Regions from separate parts of the Homo sapiens genome. Here regions 2, 3, 4, 5, 6 and 7 are each linked to region 1. The links come from fine-mapping of genetic effects on gene expression. A gene starts in region 1. Each other region holds a variant in brackets. All regions are shown on one strand. Distances are from middle to middle.

The links. PIP is the estimated chance that this variant, and not a neighbour inherited with it, causes the effect.
Region 2: its variant is fine-mapped to the expression of PRR5L in monocytes (Quach 2016, PIP 0.95).
Region 3: its variant is fine-mapped to the expression of PRR5L in whole blood (TOPMed, PIP above 0.99). The same link has a PIP of 0.9 or more in blood mononuclear cells.
Region 4: its variant is fine-mapped to the expression of PRR5L in whole blood (TOPMed, PIP above 0.99). The same link has a PIP of 0.9 or more in blood mononuclear cells.
Region 5: its variant is fine-mapped to the expression of PRR5L in pancreas (GTEx, PIP 0.96).
Region 6: its variant is fine-mapped to the expression of PRR5L in whole blood (TOPMed, PIP 0.99).
Region 7: its variant is fine-mapped to the expression of PRR5L in whole blood (TOPMed, PIP above 0.99).

Annotation. Positions count from the first base shown.
Region 1 is chr11:36,293,733-36,297,799 of GRCh38, forward strand. PRR5L (proline rich 5 like) reads left to right here and starts at 2,556. Exons shown (of 9, transcript NM_001160167.2): 1 at 2,556-2,706.
Region 2 is chr11:36,360,383-36,364,449 of GRCh38, forward strand. The region is part of intron 1 of PRR5L (proline rich 5 like); the gene reads left to right. Among named protein-coding and RNA genes, the nearest start is that of PRR5L, 66 kb to the left of the region's middle. The variant C/G (reference allele first, on the strand shown) is at 1,780.
Region 3 is chr11:36,454,259-36,458,325 of GRCh38, forward strand. The region is part of intron 8 of PRR5L (proline rich 5 like); the gene reads left to right. Among named protein-coding and RNA genes, the nearest start is that of TRAF6, 54 kb to the right of the region's middle. RefSeq lists an enhancer at 993-1,517. The variant T/G (reference allele first, on the strand shown) is at 1,922.
Region 4 is chr11:36,419,194-36,423,260 of GRCh38, forward strand. It overlaps PRR5L (proline rich 5 like), which reads left to right. Exons shown (of 9, transcript NM_001160167.2): 4 at 62-110. Among named protein-coding and RNA genes, the nearest start is that of TRAF6, 89 kb to the right of the region's middle. The variant C/T (reference allele first, on the strand shown) is at 2,262.
Region 5 is chr11:36,270,373-36,274,439 of GRCh38, forward strand. COMMD9 (COMM domain containing 9) reads right to left here. Exons shown (of 6, transcript NM_014186.4): 6 at 1,920-4,067. Among named protein-coding and RNA genes, the nearest start is that of COMMD9, 17 kb to the right of the region's middle. The variant C/G (reference allele first, on the strand shown) is at 1,913.
Region 6 is chr11:36,318,424-36,322,490 of GRCh38, forward strand. All of the region lies in intron 1 of PRR5L (proline rich 5 like), which reads left to right. Among named protein-coding and RNA genes, the nearest start is that of PRR5L, 24 kb to the left of the region's middle. The variant G/A (reference allele first, on the strand shown) is at 1,770.
Region 7 is chr11:36,406,637-36,410,703 of GRCh38, forward strand. All of the region lies in intron 3 of PRR5L (proline rich 5 like), which reads left to right. Among named protein-coding and RNA genes, the nearest start is that of TRAF6, 100 kb to the right of the region's middle. The variant T/A (reference allele first, on the strand shown) is at 1,731.

The DNA.
Region 1 (4,067 bases):
CAACTGATCTTCCCACTTCAGCCTCCTGAGTAGCTGGGACTACAAGCATGCACAACCATACCCAGCTAATTTGATTTTATTTGTTTTAGAGACAAAAAATATGTTTTGTCTCTAAAACATATGTTTGCTATGTTGCTCAGGCTGGTCTCAAACTCCTGGCCTCAAACGATCCTCCTGCCTCAGCCTTCTGAGTAGCTGGGATTACAGATGGGAGCCACTGCATCTGGCTCTGCCTTTTTGATTATAGTGATCCTAGTGGGTATGAAGTAGTATCTCATTGTGAGCCGTCTTGTTTTGAAGTTGCATTGGTATATCAAACACATTTTGTAACTGGTTCTGTCTTTTTGATTATAGCAATCTTAGCGGGTATGAAGTGGTATCTCATTGTGAGCAGTCTTGTTTTTAAGGTGCATTTGCATAGCAAACACATTTTGTCACTTACGCTACTTTGGTTCATTTGAGGTAACTGATGAAGGTTATGGAAGCTTAAATAAACTCCTATTCTCCCCTTTGGTTTCACTACTAAGTCCTGGCTGCCTTCTTTGTCAGAGGAATGCCTGCAGGAGGTGGATTAGGCCCAGGGTCCTGCAGTCCTTTAAGGAGAGCCCTTGCCACCCTCCTGTTATTCCCCTAGTTTCCCTTTTCCTCACCTTTGTCTCAGTCCAGAGATGAGGGTGGGTTGCAGGGGGAAAGGGCTGATCAATCTTTTTGACTTTATGCCCCCTTTGTGGCTTTGACGTGGCCTGATCAGCTCACCAGTCGTCTTAGTCCATATGGGCTAATATAACAAAATACCATAAACTGGGTGGCTTTATCAACAACAGAAATGTGTTGCTCATAGTTCTGGAGGCTGGGAAGTCCAAGACCAAGGCATTGGCAGATTCTATGTTTGATGAGGACGGTTTCCTGGTTCACAGATGGTGTCTTCTCACTGTGTCCTCAAATGGTGGCTGTGGGCAAGGGAGCTCTCTTGGGCCTCTTTATAAGGGCACTAATCCCATTCATGAGGGCTCCACACTCATGACCTAATCACCCCCCATAGGTCCCACCTCCAAATACCATCACCTGGGGGTGAAGATTTCAGCATATGAATTTGTGGGGGACGCATACACTCAGACCGTAGCGCAAGTTGGGGACAAAAGCTCTGAGTGTCAGCAGGGTTGCACTGGCTTGGAAATGCTGGAAATCTGGAAATTTCCAGATCAGGCATCACAAACTGCATGATCTAGGGCTCACATTGCATTAACAATGTTGTGTTTGGTCCACAGTGTTTCAAAATTGGAAAACTCGACATAAAAAATCCAGCCTTCTGGCTTTTCTTTAAAAATGTGCAGGCCCAACCATGCTGTTTCCACCTTTCTGCATTGCAGTATTTGGCTGAGGCTGAGCCCTGGCTGCCCTCTGAAGACTGGTGTGAGCTTTCAAATCCCCACAGTTCCCGCCACACACTGTTGCATCACAGTGGGCCCTCTCCACACATTTGTCACCTGTCTCATACTTGAGAATATTTATTAGTGCCCAATTCCTTCAGGGACCTAACAGGGTGAACTTAGGCCATAGTAGGTAACAGGGCTAAATACAGACACTTGGGATCCTGGCTTTCCAGCCATCCCCATACCATCTCCTCATGAGTACAAGCAAGTTTCAGGTGTAATGTGGGCATCTAATTTGTGATTTGTGGTTCTTGATCACTTTTATGGGCCAGCCACTGTTCTAAGAGTTTTGCATATATTAATTCATTTAATCCTCCTAGGAACCCAATCATAATCCCGGTTTACAGATGGGAAAACTAACACCCAGAGAAAACACTTGCTCACAGTCCATGGGTAATAGTTGCAGAGTCAGAATTTGAAGTCAGGAGCGAATGAGGTCATTTTGCAAGGTTGCTCATGACCTAGTGTCTGGTTCATTATGGGGGTTCAGTGGGTGCAAGCTTTATAATATTCATCTAGTCTTGCCAACTGCTGCTAACGTGCTGCATGGCTGAGGTTTAGTCCCAGCCAGATGTCCCATCACAAAAGTTAGGCATTGAAGTGGATGACATTTGTGTTTAGAGAAATGATATGTCTCATTCTTTTCAGCTCTAACTTGGGGTAAGTTTCTGAAAGCAAGTAAGAGAAAAGGAGAGGGACATTTGTGATCTCTCATGTATAGAAGACTAACAAAGAGGCAGGTGGTCACACCTGAAGGCACGTCCCCTGACCCTTATTACATAATGCCATGGGCTAAATGTCCAAAATTCCTCTCCCAGCTCTGATTGGCCTGGCTACTATGATGAGTGAAGTCCACCAGGGAAGACACTGTGGCCTCGTTTCTCATCCTCCTGTCCCCAGGAGTAACACAGAAGCAGCTAGTAACACAACAGCATTGTCCTCACATACACAGGCCTGCTTTGTTTCCCCACCACACAGAGCAGCCGCTGTAACAATGGCCCCGAATGACACTTTACCCTCCTTTCTCCAATGTTGCACTTGTTTTTTTAGTCTGGAATGGGCTAAACAATGATTTCCTGCAGGGGGTATCAGCTTTTTATATTTTCTGCCTGCTTCTCTGTCAGTCTTCAGGCCCCAGGTCAGTGAGTGGCAAGCCAGGCCCAGAGATCTCTGCGCCCGTTGGAACATCCCCTTCTCGGGAGGCTGGAAGGCCATGGTCATTCACCTCTCCCCAGCAAGGTGGGACCTGCCCTGGAAGAAGAAACCAGACCAGGTAACACAAGAGAGACAATGAGAGCTTGGGGCTAGGGGGTGGGGTTGCAGGGGATGGCTGAGTATCCAGCCCAAGGAGGATGGGTTTCTGGCTTCAAGACATCCGATTTTCTTGAAAGCCACCATCTGCTGTTAAATAAATAATGAAAAGCAACAGAGGTCAAGTTCAGCAGCCTCCCAGTTAGAAAAATACCCTCTGTCTGTCTGGCCCTGTTCAGTGCCTCTGATATCTCTGGGTGACCAGGGTCTTCATGGCCCATGTAGATTTACTGAGGTGGCTGTTGCCTTAATAATAGCTGCTAGTACTAAGCTCTTTCTCTATGTATTGCATATGTATACCTATTACTGTATGTCTCTCATTGAATGAATAGTAATGATAGCAAACCCTTATACAACATGCCTCAGATTCTTGCTTCTTTCAAACCCAGGGAGTCGGGTTCTAGAATCTGCGCTTTTCGTCATCATGCCCCTTGTAAAGCATTTTTTTTTACAACATCCTGCTAATAAACCAAGGTCATCACAATATTTCACTTTGAGAGGCAATGATATATGATGATAGCTATGTGTATTGTGAGTCCTTTGCCCTGTGCCAGGCAGCATTCTAACTGTTTTGCAGCTATTTCATCAGATAGATACTTTATGATCTCTATTTTATGGATGAGGAAATTGAAGTACGGATAATTTAAGTCATTCACCCGGGGTCACACAGTTGTTAAATGGCAGAGCCTGGATTTGAATTCAGTTTTCTCTTAAGTAGTATGGGAATCTTAGACCCGCCCAGCCCTGCTGGTCTGGAGTTATTCTGCTTCTCTAGGTCATGGTGTATAGAGGGTGACATTCAGTTTCTGGCTTCATAGAACATCTGCACCCAAGTTGACAGCTTAAGGAATTTTTTCGTTTGTTTATTTTAAATGATTTTTCTATTGGCATCAGCTTTTGTCTTGCTTGAAGAAGATGGAATTGCTCAATGACGACAGTGAAGGAATTTGAAAGGGTAAGAATTGCTCAATGAGTGGTATCTCTTTTTTGGCCAGAGACCAGGCTAAGTTGCCTCATATGTAAGAGAACATACGTCAAATACACAGGACTCATGGTATATTATGGAAGCAAACTTTATTTTTGCCTATCATTGTCCCTAATTTTTTTCAGCAGGTCCTCCCTCTTCCCTTGCCCTGGGATGAAAATTAAGGTAGGTCCACAACTCTTATGGGCCCCCTTCAGGAATCAAAAGTTCTTAAGTCGCTTTTAGTTCCAGCACAGCCTCATTCAGCAATTGGGATGTCCAGTCCCAGGGAATCAGCCAGATCTTTGAATTTGGTTCCCAGTGGAGACTTTTCTCCCTCCTCCAGTGGGGCCTGCAGC
Region 2 (4,067 bases), 67 kb after region 1:
CTTAGAGTGCCTACTATGTATAAGGTACCAAACAGGAAAATGGGGACGAGAGATGTCAGTTTTGCTGATCAAAGCCTGTCACCCAATAAAAACCCAAAACAGGAAACCATGACAAATATCTGACTATCTGGTGTGCAGCCATTTGGAACACAAAGGGGTATGTGCACATGTAACATCGCACATGTAACACACACACCCACATGCATGCAAGCCATCAGCTCAAGGCGTATGTGTGTGCATGCATAAATGCATGTGTGTGTGTATGTTTAGGGTCAGTGTGGAATAATAGGCTGAATAAGAGGGTAAGGTTTTATGATATACACCCAGGGGGAAAATCTGTGTAAGTCATGCTTTTATCTTGTTAGGTATATGTTATTACTCAAGAACACTTACACCTGGTGATCCAGCAGCTCAAACACACATACATGCACACACTCCTAACTTGATATCACCCTGGTGTACACTAATTGTCTTAAGCCACTCATTTGATTCAAGAAGCAAGTATAACTCTACAGCAGCAGTTCTCGACATGTGGTCAGAGACCCCTGAAGTTGCCTGCAGGAACTGTGAAGTCACGCAGGGCCCCATGCTCAGAGCTCAGTTCAATGTTCTGCTGTGGCTGTCTTGAAATGCTTTATAACTTTTGGACAAGAAACAGCACTTTCACTTTGCACTGGTCCCCACCTATGTAACTCATCTTAGTTGCTTGAGATCCTTTTAGGAGGTCCATGAGCTCAAAACTATTTTAACAAGACTAACAACATTAATATATTATTTGCCTTTTCTACTCTGATTTTCACACAAGTATACAGTGGAGTTTTCCGGAGGTGACATGGCATTGGTATTGCAACAGACTAAGTGCACAGCAGATACGAGAATCCAGATCTCTTAGGCCAGATATTCAAGAGATTTGCAGAAATAAAAAACAAAGCCACTTTTCTTGCTATATATACCTTTTGCTTTTGGAAAATATAGCTATTTTTCATAAAAATACATTACTTATGTTAATTTGTAATGGCTTTTAAAATTATTTTTAAATCGATTAATAAATAACCAAGGATTTTCTCAGTTTTAGTTTCTAATATGTTAAGTATCAACAGATATAACTTATAAAAACAAAAGACTTTAAGGCTCATAATAATTTCTAAGACTTTAAAGGGTTACTGAGTTCAAAAAGTTTGAGTCACTGATCTCTAGGTATTTACTGTTTCTACCAGAGGAAAGAAATCATTGTGGGAATGTGATCAAACGATAGTGTGTTTGCTTATACTTGTTCATTTATGTGGGCAAATCAATGTCTACTGAAAAAAATGAGGTAAAGAGACAACCTTTTTCATTACCCTTGGACTTCTGCAGAATTTTCCTAAGTGTGACCTAACACAAGTCACTTGTTTTTACTTGTTTTTCTCCTTTGTTTTAGAGCAGCAGGTTCTAGGTTATATCTAACTCTTGTGGTTTTCTAAAATGGAATGGCTGTTAAAGAGAGATCGCGAGCCTCTCTTCCCTCGAGGGGCTTGGGAGAGGTGATACAGACGATTCCAGCATGAGGCACAGTTGGATAAAGTGACCTCTGAGGGTCCTTTCAGTTTGGAGGATGCTAGTAGAGAGAGTCTTTTCCCTTACCAAGTTCAAAGTCGGGGGGTGCTGAAGTAATAACAAATGAGTACATAAAAGGCAAAAAAAAAAAAAAAAGACATTCTGTCAGCACGGAAGCAGCAGGCAGTCACCAGAGACTCCTGCCTTCCATTGGCGAACCGGTCACCGGCTCCGTCCTGAAAA[C/G]AGAACTTGCTCCGAGTGATGTAGGCAAGGGAGAATGCTTCTGATGGGAGGGCAGGGCAGGGTGGGTATGGGAATCGCATGCTCTCATTCTTATGACTCTGACTCACTGAAACGGATCCCTCCCTTCCCTTTTTGAGGACCCTATTCCTTCACTTTTAGCACCAAAGTGCTGACGTGCCTTTTCCCCACTTGTCTTTAGAAAATCTATCTTGCAAGTGAATGCTAAGGTGCTGGGCTATTGACAGTTTCACACATCACCCTTGGCGGGGTGGGGGTGGGCGGACGGGGGCGGTGGTTGGTGGGAAACAATGACAAGGAGAACCGGAGACAGTATCTTTACCCCAGGAACAAATCTCCAAAAAAGGACGTTTTAGACACTGGGCAAGCAGAATTGACATATTGGGGAAAGAATGTTTTTCTAGCACTTCTCACACCATGCCTGCTGTTTCTGTTTGAAAGCATAATCAATTATGTCTGTCCTCCCTTCTTCTCTCCACCCATCTTTCCTTTCTCACTTCCACTTTTCCTCCTTCCTTCCATAAAAGGTCTTATGGATTCTCTGTTATAGCCCAGGAATTGCTTAGATATTGGGGATTCAAAGATAAATAATGTGCTGTCATTGATTTTATAATTTGTGAGTGGCGACAGACAGGTAAACTGATCACTGTAACAAGAGGAGGCAAATGCTGCATGGGTGGGGGCTGGGGGGTGGTGTGTGTGCTGAGTGCTTGGGCAGCCTGCCTGGGATGGAGGAGCAGGGCAGCCCTTTGACCTGGCTCCTGCAGGGGAAGTGGGTATTTCTAAGGGGGAGAAAGAGAACAAGGTTCTCCAGGCCCAGAGACGTTAAGTCGTGCACCCAGGTTCACATGGCTATGTCACTGGACCAGGCCTGAGCCTGGTTTGTCTCTGCACCCTCGACCTGTGTGCAATAACTACTGCCTTTCCCAGACCACAGGCATCTCAGTGTGCCTGGGCATAGGATGAGGTGAGAGGGAAAGAGTGGCCGGGAATGAGGCTGTGGTCAAGATTCCACACACCATTCTTTGCATCATACCAGGAGACAGAAAGAGAGGCAAATATTTATGGACCAGGAGAAAAGTAAGCCCAATTCTTTGCTGTTAACTTACATTCATGACACAAGTTATTTAAAATATATTCCTGGAGTGCTTTCGAAGTGTGAGGGCAGACATCACTCCTTGACCTCTGGGAGCTCATATCTTTCTTTCCAGATTAGCTGGGGACAGATTGACTGTACTAAGCAGAATTCACTGTTAATAGCTCAATGCCTTTTCTGCAGATGCTGTGGTTACAGCTCCTCACCGCTTCCTTAGAAGCTCTTTTGCCCCTTCTGATAATAAATGACCTGACTCTTGTCTTTTCTTTTCCCCTTCCTCCTGACCCGCCTTTGAGAGATGAATCAACCCCCGGGCAGGTTTCCTGCAAGGAGTGGAGGAAGGGCCCCAGCTCCTAGACCAGCAGAAAAAGCAGGAGTTGACTGATTTCTGCTAAGCTCACTTGACAAAGGGATCTGGTCCCCTTTACCTACCAGTCTTTCTGTACCTGCCTGACACTGGCAAGGCACTTACTCTTCCAGAAACAGCTGGGCCAGAGGAAAATGGCCCACCCCTCCCACAAGAATGCCAAGAAGCAATCGGCTGTTAATTTCCAGTAGGACGAACAGGAACCCTTTCAACCAGGAAATCTAAATTGAACAGTGATTAAGTCATTCAAGCTCCATGGCCCTGTTTAATTTCCAGGTCTACAGATGGCTCTGCCTTCCTCTTAGAGACCATTTTTAGCCACTGGTCTTGGGAGGGTATTTCACTTTTAAATAAGGCACCTGCATGTTCTTGTCAGGCTGCACTCTGTGGTGGTTAAACCCACAGACTAGTGGGGGCAGAATGTCCAGGTGTGAATTTCAGCTCTGCCATTTGCTGTGTGACTTTGGGCAAGTTACTTACCTCTCTGTGCTTCAGTTTCCTCATCTGTGAAATGGAAATAATAATAATTGCACTGGGCTCATAGTGTTGTTTCATGTTTTAGGAGAATTAATGAGTTGACACTTGTGATGTGCTGAGAGCTATGCATAGTAAACATTTTTGGGGGTTAAATTAATACACATATTTAACTATCCAACTGTGAATGGGACTTGCCTTTGTCCTTTCCTTCTCTCGTGAGGTCTGTCATTAGATAGAGGGAATGAATTTAGTAAAGAGGTTAAATGCAGAGATTTGGGGATCAAATTGCCTCAGTTCAAGTCCTGACTCCACCACTTAATTAGAGGTTAA
Region 3 (4,067 bases), 160 kb after region 1:
AGAGGGATCCTAAGCCAGACATTTCACCCCATGTCTCTGGATACTAAGAAGCTAAAATGGTCACAGCAGTGCCCATCCTGACTGAGGACACTGCTTTCCAGATAAAGAGAGGTCTCTCAGGGCCTCCGTCTACCCCTTAGTAAAAGGTTTATTTTGCCTGTGGGAGGAGAGCATTGAGATCGCTGGCTGAAGTAAAAACTAAGGAGTTGGGTTGGGGGTGATAAACCCCTTTACCTATGGGAGGGCTTTGCCGTGGCTCACTTGGGCCGGAGGATAGGTAGGCGTGGTCGTAGGCAGCGGAGGGTGTGGGGGCCACTCATCCCTTCAGAAGCCACCACTCACGCTGGATTACTGACCAGGGTTTTGGCGCGTAACTCATTCCATCCTCCAAGGTACTGTTGTGCTTTCAGTCTCCAGGTCACCCGCAGGGTAGGTGACCAGAGCCAGAGAAGCGGTTTATTCCCGGGGCTCCGCACTGCACCCACGCGCCCGCGCCTGTGTTTGACTGCACGAGGATTCTCCGGAGGTGTCCCTTCCTGCCAGCCAGGCCTCACCCCTGGGTACGCATAGGTCAGAGGCCCACGATGAGAGTGAGAGAGAACGTGCCGCTCTCTCCAAAGCAGCCACTTTTCTGCAACAGTGGGAGTTGCTGAGGGAGGAGGAAGAGGATAGTGAAACTTTTTTTTAAAAGGCCGACTCCTCAGAGGCTGGCCTTTGCCCCATCTTTCAAGTCCCCGAAGTCTCCAGGCTGTTTCCCTGATGTTTGCAGGGCCCTCCCGAGCACACACTCAGCAGCACGCTCGACTTCTCCCACACAAAGGCCCTGGCCTCCCACAGGCCTCCCTCCATTGTGTCTGCCTGGGGGAGGGCCCTTCTCCTTCAGGATACTGTAGCTTCTCTGCGTGACAAGCCAGCATTCACGGCTTTCAGGTGCCAGCCTGGAGAGGGACACCCACCACGGGCTTGGTGTGCTGGGGTCACAATGGCCTTATTATGGCGGTCGCTCCGGTGGGGCCTGGCCAGGGAGCCTGGGAGATCAAAAGCCTGGGAACCAAGTCCCCAACAAAGGACCCGAGGACGGCCTTATCCAGGCTTTGCATCTCTCTGGGGGTTTGAAAGGAGCTGCTCTTGCTGGCTCCGGTGCAGGGGATGAATGCCAGTGAATGCCAGTGTTCAGCAGGGCTCCTGGTGAGTGAGGAGGGAATAAAGCCTCCCCTTGGCCTCACCCCGTGTGAAAGGGAAGAGGAGGAGGCAGAGGTGGCCTGGAGATGCCAGCTGAAATGGCAGGACCCGGCCCTCTTCCCGCTAAAAGGGCACCACTGCAAGGGAAGGGCTGGTTTGGAGCCCCAGGGGGTACCCACAGGGTAATCAGTCCCTTAGTGGGAGATTCCCTTCCCTGGGTGACAGGGCCCTGCCTTCCCGGGAGCAGAGAAGAAAAAGATTGGGGAGGAGAACAAGAAGCAAGAGTGTCGGTCGCTGTCTGCCAGCCCCGGGCCTGGCGTTCAGTTTTAAGGCCTCCCAAGGGGCCCAGCAGGCCTGACCTCCCAGTGGGGACACAGCTGACGCACTTGTCTGAGGCTTGGCTCTGGAGTCTGGCGGGAACTTAGCAAGGAAACGCTGTCTGCCCGGGGGACTCAACACAGCCTTGCGGTCCCTGTGGTCCTGGCTCTGCCCACACCCAATCTTGGGAATGAAAACATTCCACCCAGAAAGTAGAAGGAAGAGCTGTAGCCTCTCCTGTGAGTCATCAGCAGGGGGAGAGAGGCTGAGGCAGCTGTGGAGAGAGCAGGGCCTTGGAAACCACGAGAGCTGGGGCTCAGCTGTGTGGCCTGGAGCAACTTCTGAGCCACAGAGGGCTGAGCACAGAGGCCCTGTCCTTCCATTCAGGATCAGCAGGAGGAAGAAGCTGCCCTGTCTCAGG[T/G]AAGGGCCAGGTAGAGCTGCCTGCTATGTTATGGACGCCCAGCTAAAGGTGGCCTGGCGTCCGTGGAATCACTCCCCGGGGAGGTTGTGTGTACCTCCCCAATCCCTCCCCTGGATCCCAAACCACATCCTTGGCCTTGCCTTGCTGTATTGCCATGTCCTATTTCTCAGCCTCTCCCTTACACTGAGCTTGCTCGTTGAGAGCAGGGATTTTGTATCCCAGGACCTGGCACAGACCTCTCCTGTGAGTGAGTGGTTCAGTCTGTAAGTCAAGCCTAGAGAAGCACAGCCCATCTGAAATAGGCTTTGTGACTTCTCTTCCTTCTCCTCTGAATTTCCAGGGTGCTGTCGTCTCTATCTCTGACCTGACATTTGCCACACTGACCTGTTCTAACAGTTATTTGTGTATGTGGGTCACAAGCTGGGCCTGTGCTGTCAGCTCTGGGTTTGAGTCCTGGTTTCATCACTAACTATGACTGTTGTTATTCCACATCTCAACTTCAGGTTCTTCTGCGAAGTGGTTAGAAGCCATCAGTGGAGCACCTCCTTTTTGGTACAGTACCTAGCATATCATGGATGCTTAGTAAATAGTTCCTCCTAAGAACTCGTGCCCCTGACATGTGAACATACATGCATGGAGGTACACAAGTGTGCTGGGCTCAAGCCCCTGTTGGGGGCCCCACATCAGATTTATGTTTCTTTTCTTCTCTGCAGCTAGTGCAGCATTTTGCATGTACAGGTAGTAGTGTTTGTTGAAGGTGGGGACAGGTGGTGTTGTGGTCTCCTCCTCCAGGGCAGCCCCCCTCTGGCTCCAGCTCTTGGCCTGTGAGCAGCCAGAGTGGCTTCTCTTGTCCATTTGCTGCCTGGGCCCTCCAAGGATCACTGGAGACACCTTTCCCTGGCTCATCCCAGTGGGCTGGGACCTGCGGAAATCATCTGACGAATTCTCATTTCCTACAAAGATGCTGCATGTGTCTGCCAAGCAAGTTGATTTCCTGTTCTCTCGATTTACCCTCTGTCTTCTCTGGTCCCAGCCTTTCTTCCAAGTTTCAGCCATGTTATAAAATCTAACATTAATACTGTATCTTTCCAGATACCCCTTCCCCAAAGAGAGGAGTCTCCCATACTCTTATAAAACATTATCGAGGCCGGGCACAGTGGCTCATGCCTGTAATCCCAGCACTTTGGGAGGCCAAGGCAGGCAGATCATGAGGTCAGGAATTCGAGACCATCCTGGCTAACACGGTGAAACCCTGTCTCTGCTAAAAATACAAAAAATTAGCTGGGTGTGGTGGTGGGCACCTGTAGTCCCAGCTACTCTGGAGGCTGAGGCAGGAGAATGGCGTGAACCCAGTAGGCAGCGCTTGTAGTGAGCCAAGTTCGCGCCACTGCACTCCAGCCTGGGCAACAGAGTGAGACTCCGTCTCAAAAAAAAAAAAAACAAAACAAAAAACAAAACAAAACATCGAAATCTCTAGCAACATTAGAAATAATGTCACTACTGTCTACCTCTTTGACCCTCCCCTTTGCACAAACCCCTCCTGGCAGGTAGGTACCCAGTCTCAGAGGCCCAGACATCTGCATGAAGCAAATGCTCCCTAAACAGGTCTCGTCCTGTCTCCTGCTAGACTGGTTGTAGGGTTCAGGTCCCCACATGGGTTTCCCAACAGCAATCTGAAGTGTGTACTTCTATCAGCAGTGAGAGAGAAATGAATTGTTCTCAAGGGCATTTTTTTTAAGGACAGTTTTTCAATGGGATCCTTGCTGCTCTGAACTCTTCTGGTGCTTCTGTTTTATAGTTATTGATTTTGGAGATCATAAAAGTAATACAGGTATTATAAGAATGTGGGAACATTATAGAAATGTGTAACTTGGAGAGTACGAGCATCCATGCTTCAGAAAGAACCGCTGCCAATGCCTGGTGTATTCTTGGTTGCTCCTTGGCGTTTTGTCTCTTATCTCCAAAGAGGGGCGCCAGTGTCAGCTTCTTGTGTAGCATCTGCTGGGGGGCAGTGTTTGCTATTACTTGACTTCAGTGGGTGGGCTGCTTCAAGGAACATGTCTTCTGAGGGCAGCAGCAGTCACCTGAGACACAGCAGCGTGTAGTGGGGAAAGTCTGGGCACTGCCATCTAGAACCCAAGAGAAA
Region 4 (4,067 bases), 130 kb after region 1:
TCACCATGAGCTGTACCATCAAGGGCTGCTTGACGGTGTTTCTCTTCTCCCTTCTCCCCAGGCGGCTGTTGAAGAGTGAACTTGGATCATTCATTACAGACTATTTTCAGGTAAGCTGTGTGGATCTGAGCATCCATCATTATCATGCATGTGGGGGCATGGACCTAAAAGGGGTGGCCAATACTGTACAGTTGGACATTCCTTCAACAGACAAAATTACGTATCTCAAGTCCCTGCTGTGTGCTGCACGTTGCAGAGGGGCACCACTCCTGTGTCTCCCAGCAGTTAATGGAGATCACAGTCTCATGCAGCAGTTCTCAGGCATTTTGGTCTCAGGACCCCTTTACACTCGTAAAACGTATTGCTTATTTGGGTTATGTCTATCTTTACCATAATAGAAATTAAACCTGAAGAGCTTTAAAATATGTCTTAATGTATTTAAGTAATAAGCCTATTACATACTAGTGCTAATTACATTTTTATGAAAAACAACTCAGAATAAAATAGAAAGGAGATCTCTGCATTGTCTGGCTTCATAGAAGACAGTTGGATTCTTATATCTGCTTCACTTTCAATTTGTAATGATATTGCATGCCACGTAGTTTTGGGAAAATTCCACTGTAAACTCGTGGAGAATGTAAGGGAAAAAAACAAATAGCTTAGTATTACCGAGAAAATAGTTTTGACCATGGGGATCCCTTGAAAGAGTTTGGGTAGTGGGGGTCCCCCAGGGGACCCTGAATCATACCACATCTGGATCCATTGTCTGGATCAGTCAGACTTCTCCCCTGTCTATACATTGTTGGTATAAAGCTAGTGAGTTTAAGGTTCCAGGACCAATCAGAGGATAGTTTCTAATTCACAGACGCAAGCTGTTTTCATGACTCTAACCAAAGGCATATGGTGGAGAGGGAATGGGGAGTGTTGAGTGACAAGGAGTCACTGACTGGACGGCACCTTAGTGAAGTCAGAATCCCTACTTCTCACTCATTTGCTGAGTGGGCAAGCTGTTTCACCTCCCTGTGCCTCAGTTTCCTCATCTGCGAAATGGGACTAAAAATACAACTTACCTTAAAAGTTTATTATATGCTTTATGTGAAATAACACATGTAAAGCACTCTGTACGTAGTGTGTAGGGGGGCAGTATAGGGTAGTGGTCAAGATCACAGCCTTTAGAGGCAGAGTGCTTGGGTTCAGTGCCCAGCATAGCCACTTACTAGCTATGTGACCTTGAGCAAGTTGCTTTACCTCTCTGTATTTCCTTTTCTGTGAAACAGCAGTAATAGGACCAAACCTTATAGGGTTGTCGTGAAGACTAAATAAGTTATTTATAAAAAGTGCTCAGTGACTAGCAGAGAGTAAGACAGTAATAAGTGCTTATTAAGTTTATATAAGTGCCTATGTGTTATTCTAAGGTGTAATCCATCTCTTTTAATGGGAAAGTAGCATGAAATGCCTAACATCTTGGTTTCAAGTTAGCAATGTTATTCTGTGTCCAAATAGAGCATACTTTTAAGACAGTTTAAAGAGATTTTAGGTTTTGAAAACAGTACAGGCATCCTTTTATAATTTTTCTTTATGAGATTCAGGAAGCTTAAACTTTTATGTGCACTTTAAAAGAATGACATGTCAGTTGTTTAAACACACACACACACACACACACACACACACACACACACACACACGGACAGCTCCTCTAAATCTGGACAAACCAAGACCCAACAGAAGCCTGGAATTCAATCGGGTCATATGTCTCAGCTGCTTGGAAGACAGCTCCTGTTCAGGGAGAGACAAACATAAAGATTAAGAGAGAGATAATTAGTCACAAATGTGAATCATTTCAGTCACCCTTGACTCAAAGGTCAGTCTTGGCCTCACTCTCTTCTCTTGCTGTCTCTACTGATTGATTTTTTTTAAAGCTAACTACAGAGAAGTGGTTTTTCAGTCAGTCCTGGAGAAACCTGCTGGGTTGAATTGCCTTCCTCCTTGACATTTAAAAGCTCCATGGTTTGGTGTGGTTTCAATCAGGTTTTAAATGTCATTTGTCTTTTGGTGCTGGGGGTTACCCCTAGGACAGATAGGAAAGGGTGTTTGGGTGGGGACTTGTTTATCTGGGAAGCCTTGAGGTTTTTGGGGGCGGTTAATACTGCTTACGAAGCATGCCAGATGCTTAACAACTAATAACCACTTGTCATTTCCTACCGGGAACATAATCAGAAATGCTGCTTTGTGAATACAGAATCTCTTGCTGGGGTGTGGGG[C/T]GAGAACTAGTTTTCACAGTTTTAAATCGAAGTTTATTTAAGGTGCTGATCTGGAAAGAAGGCTCTCCTAGATACAGTTTTGTTTTTTTCTTTTTTTAATAGATTTTAAGTGTCATGTGGGCACACAGCTTTTTTTTCTTTCTTTTTTAGTCTTTTGGTTCCCCACTCCCTACAAAGTTCCTGGAACAAAGTAGATACTCAGTAAACCTTCCTGGGAGAGAGGGAGGGATTTTCTGCCACAGATCACTGAAATGATTTTAGGCGATGCGTGCAATGACATTAAATAACATTAGGGCTTGTGGTTAGAAACTGCTCTCCTCTTTTATTTTCCTTTCGCCCTTGGGATTGTGCTAGAGAGGATCTTGAGTTGTACCATGGTGTCCTCTCCCCTCCTCCAGGACTTGGAAATCTCCCTCGTTTGAAGAAGGAGGAGCAGTCCTCGAACTTAGTGTCTTCAGCTAGGGATGCTGACTAGTTAGGATTTCTTAACATTATTTTGTTGGCATTGAGTTGATCATTGAGTTCCATTCCACTTAGTGTAAATTATGTTGCTGTGGTTTCTGTTTTAAACGTATTTACTTGTTTAAAAAGTGGATTGATATAAGAAAAATAGTATGCAAAGAATAATCATGTAGGTGGCCCTGGCTCTGGCCCTAGTCATGCAGGTGGTTCAACAGAGACTCAGATTTGGAAAGCCCATTACCAGGCACTGCTTAAAAATGGGCTGGTTTCAAACCATTCACTTTACAGAAGAAATCTCCATATAAGGAGACACGTCCCAGAGGGAAGGCTTGTAGAGGCGAGCTTAGCCTTCACATTTGACTGTCAGATGTCGTTTCAGGAGGGAAAGTCAGGAGGAACTCCAGAAAGTGTGTTCCTCCAGTAAAGGGGCAGAAGGAAGGCCTGGAGACAGATGAGGAATGGAACCCAGGGGTGGACAGGAAAGTCACCAAAACCATGGACCTGGCTGTTGGGAAAGGTGAAAGATGGGCTTCCTGGGTGCTGGGCTCTGCATTGCAGAGGCTCAGATGGCCATGCCTAGACATCTGCATTCAGCAGTCAAGTCTGTCTCCTCACCCTGACCCCCAACTCTGAGCTTGCCACTCATACAGCCCTTTCTGTGGCTCTGCTTTTGAAAGCGAACATTCTCATTTACATTCTGTGAGTCTTAACACAGAATGTCCTGAGTGGGGAATAATGAAAATGACCCCAGGTGAGGCCAAGAGAAAGCAGGTAGGAAAATTGTGCTTATCTCATGCCTGCACACAGAGAAGACAAGCTGTGTGATCTGCAGAAGCCCAGCTACACGTCCATAAGGCACTGGCTGGAAAAGTCTCTGACATTTCCAGTATTGATTTTTTTCCCTTTCCCTCTGTTTTGAATTGTGTCCGGAAGGAAAATTGGGGTTTCCGAGAGAAACACTATATACTAGTAACAGCTCTGAGGGATAATTGGTTTCTTGTAATTTTTGAAACTGATGATATGAAACGTTCTGGATTTTCCTATTTACCTCATTAGGTATCTTGGTGGTTCAGAGCATGGGTGTGTTTGCAGATTGCACTTTCTGCTATTCTGTATCTACTGGCTTTGTTTTGTGTGTTATAAGCTTTTGCCCCAAGCCCAGAAAGTTCAATTCCTTTTGTTGGAACTGGAGTTTTGCTTGATATAGAAACTCAGGCTAGAGTCAGTGGCTTTGAATGGGTTAATACTAGGAAGAGAGGAAACTTAGCTACTACCGTTGTCAATAGGTCATGGATACCTGGTAATGTGTGAGATACATTTGTGTGCATGTATGTGTACGTGTGT
Region 5 (4,067 bases), 23 kb before region 1:
ATTCAAACTATCCAACCCTAAACTTAGCCAGCATATGTACCTTGTCTTAACCATTCCTTCCTATGAAAACCCCAATAAAGGCTTGGGGCCATGCTCTCCCCTCTCCCTGCCTCCTGACCAACACTTATCCTTCCGAACCATGTGGCCCCGTGTGCCACACCTCCTGCTTCTAGAGCTCTATGAGCACAAACTTCTTCCTTCATGATAATCATTTCCACGTCTGTGTGCCTTATGTCTTACCATTCCTGATTAAAACAAATCCTGAGAACAACTGGCATAGGTAGCAGGGTGGTTTGATGCCAGATGGACATGGAATGTCCTTAGACTGATCTTGACTTGCTACCTGCTCCCGACAGACAGCAGCCACTGCTTGGCAAGGTACAGCTGAGAGTGGAGTGCTCGGGCTTCCTGCTTGATGGCTACTGCATTGTGTTGTGTTGTCAGGTGTTGCCGTTAATTCCCAACTTGAAATTGCGACGCTCGTTCGAGCAGCTGAGTCCCGGAGCTGCCTCATAGGCTGGTGTCATGTGTCTGGGACTAACCTATTTCTCCACGGTGGTGGAATGCCCAGGATTCAGGACAGAGTGCCTGGGGTTACATAAGTAATTGGCTATATTTTTTTCTCAAAAGGTCCCTCTGAAGGGGACCAGGAGTGACTGACTATCCTCCTCATGCCAAGGGCAAGTCTGATCCACTGACTGAGGAGCACTGACAACACTGGGGTCATCAGAGTCATTTAGATGAAAGTGCCTAGTGTCTAGGATGTGATAGCTCCTGAGGACACTCATAAACCACTTTCCCTTTTCCCTCTGGGCTTTGCTGAGTCAAATTTCAGCCTCTTCCTTGGAGTACTGCGAGAGCACTTGTCGGAACGCTTGCTCCTTGCTCGTGCATGTGTTGAGGGCCATTCATGGGATCAGTGTGAAGGGCTCCTCCAGGGATCACGGCATCCCACAGATGTTCAGATCACACACTTCTCTGCTGTTGTCTGATTGCTGCTGTCATGATTTATTTCCCAACCCAGGGGTAAATAAGAAGTCCCCTCCCTAGAGACGAGGGACTCAATGTTTAATGATCAACGGGAAGGAAAAAGAGCACCTGTTTCCAACTTCCCCAAAAGCCCCAGAGAGATGGTCCTTCCCCATGTGGCCCTACGTGGCATGCCATGCCTCCTGTTTCTAGGGTTCTGTGAGCACAGACTTCTTCCTCATGACAATCACCTCTGTGCCTGTGAGTCTTGCCATTCCTGATTAAAACAAATCCCGGGTACACCTTAACACAAGCCTGGTCCGTCCTGATGAATACATAAGGAGGAAGAGTGGGAATGGCATCAGGTACCAAGATTTTCTCATCTTCTTCCCAACCTCTGGGGTCTAGATGGCCTCTCCGACTGCAGATGAGCTTTCGGTGTGGCAGGAAGATGGACCTCATCATCACTGGCCTGGCTGTCAGAGCCTAGAGGCAGGAGGTGGTCTCAGAAATTACAGCAGAGAAAGCCCCAGGGACAGACTCAGATTGGCTGATTGGAATCATGAACATTCATGAGACAATCGCTGTGGCACATGCATTTGATCAGGATTGAGGCAGATGCTGACCCCTGTTGGTGGGTGGCTGGGTGGGATGTGTTGGGCAGCCAGCACAGGCACCAGTGAGATGGATCATTGTCCTTCTGTGGATGGAGTTTGGACATCCAAACCTTGCCACACCCTGAGGAAGGACAGTTTGTATACAGCTGCTTCATCACACAAAGTACTACTGGGAAACCAGACAAGCAGTGAATGAGCCAACTTCCTTTGAGATCAACAGATAAGAGCCAGGAGGCCCTTCTGAGATAGGGCCAGGCCAACCAGAAATACGGTATCTACAAACAATCCATCATCACTAACAGAGGAAAACAAATGCCTTAAATGAT[C/G]ACGAGGTGAAGGGTAGCAAAGATTTATTGACTTTTCCAGTTATTTATCAAATGCCCTCTGCGTCATGTACCCAGATGGCTCTATTCGGACAGATCTGGCTAGAGGAAATGTCCAACTGCCCAGACACCTATACTGGGCTTCTTGCTTCAAGTAAGTTTCTTATGGATGCCCATGGGAGGCCAAGAGGAAGGTATCTGACATCTCTCTCTGCAGGTCATGGGGAATGGAAGGAAAGGAGAGGGGTAAATTTGTGACAAATCTGAGCTCAACTGGAGGGTATGACCAGGGGCTCTCAACTTGGAAGTAGCGGGCTGGCTTCTGGGGTCCTTGACCTCTTGTCGTTGCATGCAAAAAATTGAATGTTCATTTCCTATAGCAGATAAAGAAGAGCTTGGAATTTTTTTTCCCTTGACCTTCCTCGTATCTCACTGGGTAGGCAGACGTAAGATCTCTCATCTCTACTTCAGTTTCAACATTTTCCAAATGGCGCTAGTCACAGAATTATATGTTCCTTGCAAAGTCCTGTGTTGTAAAGAGAAAGCTAGAGAAATATGGGTCCACCTCTTAATGAGACCATTTACCAGCAGATGACTCAATCTCAATGAGCTGGTTTCCTGGTCAATAAAGGGAGGATGATAATACTAATTCTCACACCAACTCTGTTATAGTAGATGAGACAATAAATGCACCAAGCTTTCTACTCTCATCCATTAATAATCAAAGCCTTTCCTATTAGTTGTAACAGTACTGTTTTTAGGTGCATTATATCATTTAATTTTCACAAAAGTCCTATCAAGTAGGTACTACTATTATACTCATTTAATTTAGGAAAAAAGTACAAAGTGGGTGAAAATTGAGATGTAGAAGTCAAGCACCTTACCACTGAGAAGCAGAGCTGGCTTCTGACCTTGGCTGCCTGACTCCTGACAGCATATTCTTAATCTGTGGATTTACCTCCTCCATTCACTCCATACACAAACTAGCAGAGAAGCTGCCAAAACAAAGCACTCCAAGAGCAGGCTGCAAGCTGTTGCCATGGAGATGATCTGGTGAGTGAAGGGGGAATCTTCACACATGGAGTCCCTGTGAGGCGTGAGGCACATGACAGAGATGATCTCATTTGGTTAAACTCGAAGGAGTGCCTTCATCATAGCTCTTGTAACAAGCACATACTGATGATTAGCCTTGCTTCCTTTTTATTTATTTTTATTTTTTGAGACGAGTCCTTCTCTGTCACCCAGACTGGAGTGCAGTGGCACGATCTCGGCTCACTGCAAGCTCTGCCTCCCAGGTTCACGCCATTCTCCTGCCTCAGCCTCCCGAGGAGCTGGGACTACAGATGCCCGCCACCGCGCCCAGCTAATTTTTTGTATTTTTAGTAGAGATGGGGTTTCACCATGGTCTCGATCTCCTGACCTCATGATCTGCCTGCCTCGGCCTCCCAAAGTGCTGGGATTACAGGCGTGAGCCATTGCGCCTGGCCACCTTGCTTCCTTTTGTTCTACGTAACAGGTGAAAACACAGAAAGTGGTGCGATTCAATTGCCTGATTTCATGTCACACCATGGGTCAAGGGCTTAGCTGGGAATTAGGAAGTTGGGATCATCTTTAAAAACTAGAGAAGGTACTGGCCAAAAGCTTCAACTTGGGGACAAAAGAAGCTACAAAAATCATGGAAGTTTTAGAACTGTTGTTTAGTTCCAATTATTCCCACTTCTTCACCTAGGAGTGGCTGCATTAGATGAAGGAAGAGGGCCCTGGTTTCATGAAGAAGGGAATTAGCACCCATTTCAGACTTCCTACACTGAAGAGGGGTTCCAGTATGGTGGAGGGGGCTCAGGGAACACTCTGGATGGACCATGCTCTGTGGGCTCTGCCTGGCTTCCCTGACAGAGGAGCAGGAACTGCTGGCATCACCTGTCCGATTCCCTCCATGTGTTCTGGGATTGGAAATGAACTAATTAGAGCTAATGTTGGAAATAAACTTACTTATTGGATAGGCTGCATGATTTGGGCCTGAATTTCTCAAACAGCTATGCAGAGGCAGCTGACGATGCAAATGTTCCCTCACCCTGCCATGGTGGTAATTAAGTTGCACTCAGGAGCTTTTCAAAGATGGGGGCTTCTGCTCTCCAGCTTCAGAAAGAGAAAGAAG
Region 6 (4,067 bases), 25 kb after region 1:
GGCTAATTTCCTTCCAACCCTGAAACTTGGTGAATCTGCGAAGTCCTGCCAGTTGGTGTTCGTTTGGGCTCATTTTCAACATGCCTGAGAGGGATGGATATGTGGAGCTACTGTTAGCTATGAATCACGATGGACATTTTGATGTAATTCAGTTTAATCTATTTGCTTGTCTAGCATCTAACTAAAAGTGCAAGTGGTTGGTGCAGAAAAGAAAAGGAGGAAATTTTGGAGTGCACAAATTTGTGCTAGGATAGGATTTCAGGGGAAAGGTTAGGTAGTGTAGGGAGACGGAGATTTGAGCAGCCATGGAGTATAGCCAAGGAAGGATCCTGGATATCTGGAAAAGTGAAGAGAAATTGAGAGAAAGTTGGATCACAGGACAGGTGAGAGAGAAGGGAAATGGGAGGGAAAGGCCAAAAAGAAGGTTTCAATTATGTGGCAAATGTCAGAGGCTTAAACATAACAAAGGAAGCTGTTCATGAGAGCTTGGCCTGATGAGAACTGATTTCCTTGACTTTTCTCGATTTTTTACTAGAAAGGTCCTAATACTAAATCACATATCAAGGCTTTCTTTAATAATAGAATCCATTAATACTCATCACTTTTTTCTCTCCTGATTGGGAATAAAATGGATTATTAACTGTTGAGTAGGCACTGTATGAAATAAAGGGGATAAAGGAAATTTAGGAGCAGAAGCAAGCACTCTGAGCTCCTGCAGTTAATCGTGATTGGCTTAAAGCAATCAGCAAGTCTCATCCCTGGGACCACAGTGAAAGGCTGATTAGGACCAGTGAGGGCCTGGCCCAAGACTTTTATTTGCTGGTGGACAGGATGAAGCTGAGAAGATGTGGTTTGGAGTTGATGCAGTCATCTTATTACCACAGGGAAGAGCCTGAGAATAGAGCTAACACAAGGAAGAAAGCAGACAGAAGCCAAGAGATGGACGGATTGGGTTTTAGAAATGTCATCTGAGTCCCTTGATCTAGCGGCACCTGACTTTTAATCTACCTAAGTCAGGGATTGGCAAACTTTGCCCGTAAAGGGCCAGATAGTAAGGGCTTTAGGCTTTGTGGGTCATGTCGTCTCTATCACAGCTACTGGTCTCTACCATTGGAGTACAAAAGCCATGGGTGATACATAAACCAATGGGCTTAGCTGTGTTCCAGTAAAACTACTTACAAAGGCAGGCAGTTGTGGGGAGGGCTTGGCACAAGAGCAATACTTTGTAGATCCCTCATCTAAGACGACACTAAATTTCCTTTTTTTTTTTTTTTTGCTTAAGTGTATTTGGCTTGGGTTTCCTAACACTTGCAACTGAAAAAGGCCTTAAGTGTTATAGGTTCTTAGGTTGTGGACAATGGAAATCGATTCCAAATTCCTTGGGGGAAAACAAAGATTTATTATCAAAATAAAGCATAGACAAATTACAAATTCCCAGGAGAGAAATTTCAATTGTTGTGACTGAAGTCGCATGTCCAGGGGAGGGGGATTTACCAGCCCTCTCAAGGCTGCACGCAGGAGGAAAGAGGTTGTTTCTGTAGGGAAAATTAGGGGACTCTATTAAGACAAACAGGTACTGGAGGCTGGATCTACTCCATTAAGACAGGAAAAAGTTCCCATATCAAGTGTATTCAGCAGGTGCCCTGCAAATGCAGTTCATCAAAGGCAGTCTTGTGTATTAGAAAAACATGTTGATTAACAAAGACTTGTGTCGTCGTACCTCTGCCCCTACTGGCTGTGTTGCCCTGGGCAAGATAAGAAATGTCTCT[G/A]GGTCTCAGTTCTTCAAGAACAAAAAGAAGGTGATGAACTGGGAATCTTTTTTTTTTTTTTTTTTTTTTGAGATGGAGTCTCACTCTGTCGTCCAGGCTGGAGTGCAGTGGTGCGATCTCGGCTCAGTGCAATCTCTGCCTCCCGGGTTCAAGCGATTCTCCTGCCTCAGCCTCCCGAGTAACTGGGATTACAGGTGCCTGCCGCCACACGCAGCTAATTTTTTTTTATGAACTGGGAATCTTTAAGGGCTCTTTGAGTGCCAAGCTTTGGTGGCTTTTTCCATGTATTCATCATCTTGCCTGTTAATCTCTGAGACGACGCTCTGTGCCCTGTGGCTTATCTTTTTGTATAATTACTAGCTAGCTGTGGGACCTCCCTCATGTTACATAATGTCTGTGAGTGTTAATTTCCTCATCTGCTGTAAGCCCTACCTGGTAAGGTGGTGTACGGATTAGAGCTATGCATGCTACTTGCTTAGAAAGGCAGAGTGTGAACTGGTATAGAGTAGGTGTTTCAGAGTTAGATGATCAGGACTCAATCTTTGTTTAGTCTTTTTCTTACTGTGCAACATTAAACAAATTATTTAAATTCTTGGAATCTTTGTTTCCTCATCTGTAAAATGAGGATATTTATAGAACCCTCTTGAGATTGTTGTGTGGATTAAATGAGATACTGCATATAATATGCTTAGTACATGGCTTGGCATGTGGTACTCTGTAAAGAGAAATTGTTATTACTTGTAATGATTTAATTGGTTTCTAGAAATAGGCTCCTGTTAGAAAGAAAGTTTCTCCTATTTTTTACAGTTCTTATTATGGAATTTTAAAAAATAATTCTTTGAGTTTTGATGTTGTTGTTTGCTTTTAGTTATTTCTGTAAAGTTAAAAAAGTAACAGAGGCCTATTTTAAAAATATTTTATTTTCTAACCATTATAGTAGGATGCATTCAGTTATAACAACAGGCTTAAGAAAGAAAAGGTATTTATTGGCCCATGTAATTTGCTGCGCTTAATACAGCACTCAATAATGTCCTCAGATTGTTTTCTTCCTCTCTGCACTCTGCCTTCTGTAGGGATCATTTCCTGGTAATATAGTCTCAACTCATGATCACAAGATGGTTGCCAGTAGACCCAGGGCCTGCCTGCTTCCTCCTCCAGATCCTGTAGAAAGAGTAAAGGGGCTCTCTCAGTAGCTTTTTCAGAAAAGCAAGAAAGTTTCTTTTCCATGAGCTTCTAGCATATGTCCTCTCAAGGCTCATTTGCCCAGGTTAGGTCATGAATCCACTGCAGAAAGAAATTGTGTCCCTAGAGGTTGGGCATCAACTAACATGTCTAAAAGGACCTGGACCCATCTCTGAAGCTGGCTGGCAGTGCCCATACAGCATGCCTGAGAATACAGAAGCAGCATGCCCTGAAAGAAACAAAGATTGGCAAAGGTTAGGCATCAGCGTGGGTTCACCGCCTCTGCTTTAATCCTCCGTGTTGTCGCTAAGTCCCTGTATTAATTTGCTGGGGCTGCCACAACAAAGGACCACAAGCTGGGTGGTTTAAACAACAGACATTTATTTTCTCACACTGTGGAGTCTAGATGAAGTGCAAGATCAAGGTGCAGCAGGGTTGGTTTCTTCTGAGGCCTCTTCCTTGGCTAGTAGATGGCCATCTTCTCCCTGTGTCTTCACGGGGCCTTCCCTCTGCAGGTGTCTGTGTCCTAATCTCTTCTCATAAGGACACCGGTCATATGGGGTTAAAGCCCACTTATTTAATGTCGTTTTATCTTAATTACTTTTTCAAAGCCTCTGTCTCCAAATATGGTCATCTCTGAGGTTCCTGGGACTTAGGACTTCAACATATGAGCTTGTGAGGGATGTAATCAACCCATAACAGTCTCCCCAGCCCTCAGGTCTACTCCTCAGAATCACTATTTTGAACAGTTTGTACATATCTATAATTCTTAATTGTTTCAAAAATGTTCTTTGAAATGAACCTACATTGACTGCTTCAGAGATTAAGGCAGCTCTTTTATCAATGAAATTATCTCAGCAGTCAGAAAATCTTCTGTGTGCCTGACAGTTTTTCCCTAGAAAGGGCTTAAAGTAGATGTTACCAGTAATTCAGGGTATCTACTTTTTTAAAGTATCTCAGTAAAATATCTCCAACAATATGTACACCATAAATTCTTGGTGAGCCTCCCAAAATGAATTTTATAATATATACAACACCAGAAAACAGAATGATTTATGGTTTAGAGTGAACTGTTGTAGATATTGTTTTTATCTGCCTACCGTACTTTGGTCATAC
Region 7 (4,067 bases), 110 kb after region 1:
CTTGGGTTTTGATTTTCCTTTTGGAAGACTTGTTTGCAGAACAGATCTATCAACTCAACATGGTTGAGGCAGGATTGGTGGAGAGGGTGGGGCACAGGATGGTAGGGATGTCAGAAAGAGATGTGCAAACAGAGAAGCCTCAGTTCTTCAGCCCATTTTTCAGTTGTGACAGTCCTGTTATATGCAAGAGGGTTTGTGCTAAGTTTAATGGAAATTTTTAACCAAAGAGAGCAGTTTCTGGATTCAGAGAGACCAGGGATCAAGACTGGGCTAGCTGTGTGACCTTGGGCAAGTGACTTCATTTTTCTAAGTCTGTTTTGTCTTTTATGAAATGAGGATAATAATAGCACTAACCTCATGGTCATTGGGAGGATTGAGATAATGCTAAAAGCATCCTTAGCACAGGGTCTGGTAATTTAATAAAGGTTTAATAAATATTAGCCATATGATTCTTATTACTGTGAACAGTTAAGAAATAGTAAAGTGATACATAATGGGTGAGTACGAGGCATGAGAACACAGGCCAACGTGATGAATTGCCCCATGAATAGTGCTGTGTATAACCCTCTCCAGGCCAGGTGTCATGCTCCCACCTGTAATCCCAGCTCTTTGGGAGGCTGAGGCAGGAGGATCGCTTGAGTCCAAGTGTTTGAGACCAGCTTTAATGAAACCCCAGTTTCTACAAAAAATACAAATAAAATGAAAAGCTGGGCGTGATGATGCATACTGCACTCCAGCCTGGGCAACAGAGCAAGATCCTGTCTCAGAAAAAACTTCTCCAGCAGTTTGGATGAGGTGAGCTCACTTTGAACTAGAGAGTCTGGGACAGAATCCTCAAAGAGTGGTGCCTGGAGTTGAAGTTTGGGTGAGGCTAAGTTCTTACAAGGAGAGCCAGCTGTTTCTCCTTTCCACAGAGAAAAGAACAAGAGGAAATGACTTTTTCAGTTCTCCATTCTACTGAACCCAAATGGTAATAAACTTTTTGATGGAGTATCCAAGTCTGGAGTCAAAGCCTAAATCAGATTCTTTGGGTCACTCATCCCAGCCACCCTGGCCACTTTCTATCTGTAGGGTTAGTATGTACCTGGGAAATACAAATTTATTTAAATAGTAGCCAATGCAAAGGATGACTAGGAAGGTAGATGTTTTATGTAACTGAGTCTTGTAATGCAGTCATTATTATAAGTGGCCTTTCCATTTAAGACATGTCTTTGAAAATAGACTCTAGTTTAAATGTTAGCAGATAGACTTTGAAGTAATTATGAGGAAGAACTTGGGACTGAGGATGGTCAAATTCTAAAACACAGTATTGGATCCAAAGACAGGTTTCTCCACCCTTTAAGAATAAATCTGTCAGGCCAGGTGCGGTGGCTCACCCCGTAGTCCCAGAACTTTGAGAGGCCAAGGCAGGTGGATCACCTGAGGTCAGGAGTTTGAGACCAGCCTGGCCAGCATGGCAAAACCCTGACTCTACTAAAAATACAAAAATTAGCCAGGTGTGGTGGTGTGCGCCTGTAATCCCAGCCAGCTATTTTTGGGAGGCTGAGGCAGGAGAATCGCTTGAACCTGGGAGACAGAGGTTGCAGTGAGCCAAGATCGTGCCACACTGCACTCCAGCCTGGGGGACAGAGAGAGAATTTGTCTCAAAAAAAAAAAAAATCCATCAGAAACGTCTCACCTCAATATAGCGGCCAATGTTGTCCCATGTAAAAGTCAGGGCACATGGTCTA[T/A]TGATATGAAAACCATAAATCAGAATATTTCCCATTGAAACTGCCTTAGGCACAGCTTGCACATTGTAATATCTCTCAAGGCAAGAAAATGACCTTTCAGAATAGACGTATTCTAGCTAAATCCCCAGGCATCCCAATCAACAATTCTGGCTTCCCTAAATTTCCATCTGCCAGAGTTCGGGCTGATTCTGGGAGTCTTCTTGTTTTGAATTCTCAATGGGGTGTTAGTGCGGTTTTTAACACCCCTCTCCAGCCTCACCCCTGATGTGGCTGCATTTTGGCAGCGAGGAAAAGTCTGGGTTAGAGGTTTGGGTTTCATGAGCCCTTCCAAGAACAAGAGCAGCTAAGCTGACACAAGAGCACACTCTCCCTAAACAGTCTTTTCTGCCACCTCTCCCACTGATTTTATGTAACCGAGAAGAATTAGAAAAGTGTGAAAAAAGCAAGACTGATGTTTGCTGGTTCTTTGAAGAACCTGCTTGCCAATGTTCTTATAAGTGCTTTCAGTCTTTGAGTGTTGGGGTGTGTGTGTCGAAGCAGGGGCCATTGATTCATTGATTTATTTATTGAATAAATGTGGAGTGCTCTGCCCAGTACTGGGCTGTATACTGGGGTGGTCATTGAGTAGGTGGTTTGTGTCTTGGAGATCTTACAGCAGAATGAGAGAGGAACTGGGCAGGTAGTTCTCAGGCAACGCTTTTAGAGGGGTGATGGTGGAATCTGGAGTGCTGGGGGCATGTGGAGGATGGGCACACAATTAGACCTAGGAGAAAATGATATCCAAGTTGAAATCAGAAGTGGGAGCAGGCAGAAAGGGCAGTTGAGGATCTAACGTTCTTGCCACCACCACTCACTCCATGCCCTCCTGCCTCCTCAAACTCCCTGGGAGGACTTTTTCTCGGCAGAAATAAATGCTCAGAGATGAAGTTTCCGGAAACCAGAGATCAGTTATCTGCAGCCGGCCTGAGACAGGAAACGCACATTTTCCTTCTCTCTCCAACCACCCTGCTTCTGTTCTTGTTGGGAGGGGGGAGGTGGTGTGAAGAAAACCCCAGAGATTTTCAAGGAAAGAGGAGGTTCCAAGAATTGTGTTTGATCTCTGACAGGTCTGAGTTGAAATATCTTCCTTCTGAGTCAGTTGGTTGCCTGAAACCCAAAGGGAAATCCACCTCCGATTTTTCCATCTCTTTAACAGAGTGTTGACTGTAAGAGAGGGGGACCCACAGTAGGGGGGAAGAGCTGGGAGGGGACGGGAGGAAGGTGAGCCTGGATCCAGCTCACAGGCTGATGCCATAGACCAGTCCCAGGCCTGATGCCACGAGGTAATGATAACTGCAGACACTTGCTTAGCCTTTTAGTATATGCCAGGTTCCAAGTGCTTCATATGTGTCAACTCTTTTAAAACTCCCCACACCCTGTGAGATAGATACTGTATCCCTGTCTTACAAGGAGGAAGTACAGATACAGAGAGGTGGAATAACTCACCCAGAGTCATGTAGCCAGTAAGTGCCTGAGCTGGGATTTGAACCCAAGCCTCCCACATGCTTAAACCCTTAGTAAGTGGGCTGCAAGAGCCACACAGAGCTGGCATTATCCAGATTTGGGCTTGATGTACCTGGACATAGGTTCATGAATAGATCATGAGGTAAGGGGGGCATTGCCCTTCTGAGGAGCCTAGTTTTGGAGGGATTAAGATGAGGGCTCTTCTTGGTCTGGGTGACTCTGCCTGATGATGTGTTACTACCTTGTACCTGCTGTGGCTGAGAAACAGACTTGGCTTTCAGGTTAAGAAGGGTTGTTAGAAATGGCAGATTGGAAACCCATGGGGTTGGCGCATGTGGTTTGGCCTAAAAGTTGTTTAGAAATCTGGACATCTCACCTAGAACTCCAGGTTTCCGGCCTCTCTGGAAAGGTCAGATCTGGGCACTGGACTCACGGTCTGGTGTGGAGCCTGTCAGGGGAGCTGAGGCCTGGCTGCTGGCTTTAGAGGGACTTTCTTGGTCCTTACAGTACACACTCACTTGCCTCCCTTCTTTGCCTGCCTGCCCCTGTGGCATGGGGGGTACCACTGCCTGATTAGGTTGGCCTCCATTTGAGTTGGGATCTACCAATGTATGGCCCCTGGCAAAGCTCTGAGCATCGATCTTATCTGCAAAATGAGGATACACTCCTACCTGTGAGGCTGTTGGAGAATTTGAGATTCTGTGTGCAGACTGCCGAGCATAGTGTGCCACATAACTAGGAGCTCAATAAATGCTCTTCGTCAGTTTCCTCCATGTTTCTCACTATTCCCACTGCCACCCACTAGGATGCCGACACCCGAAGGGTGTGAGTACT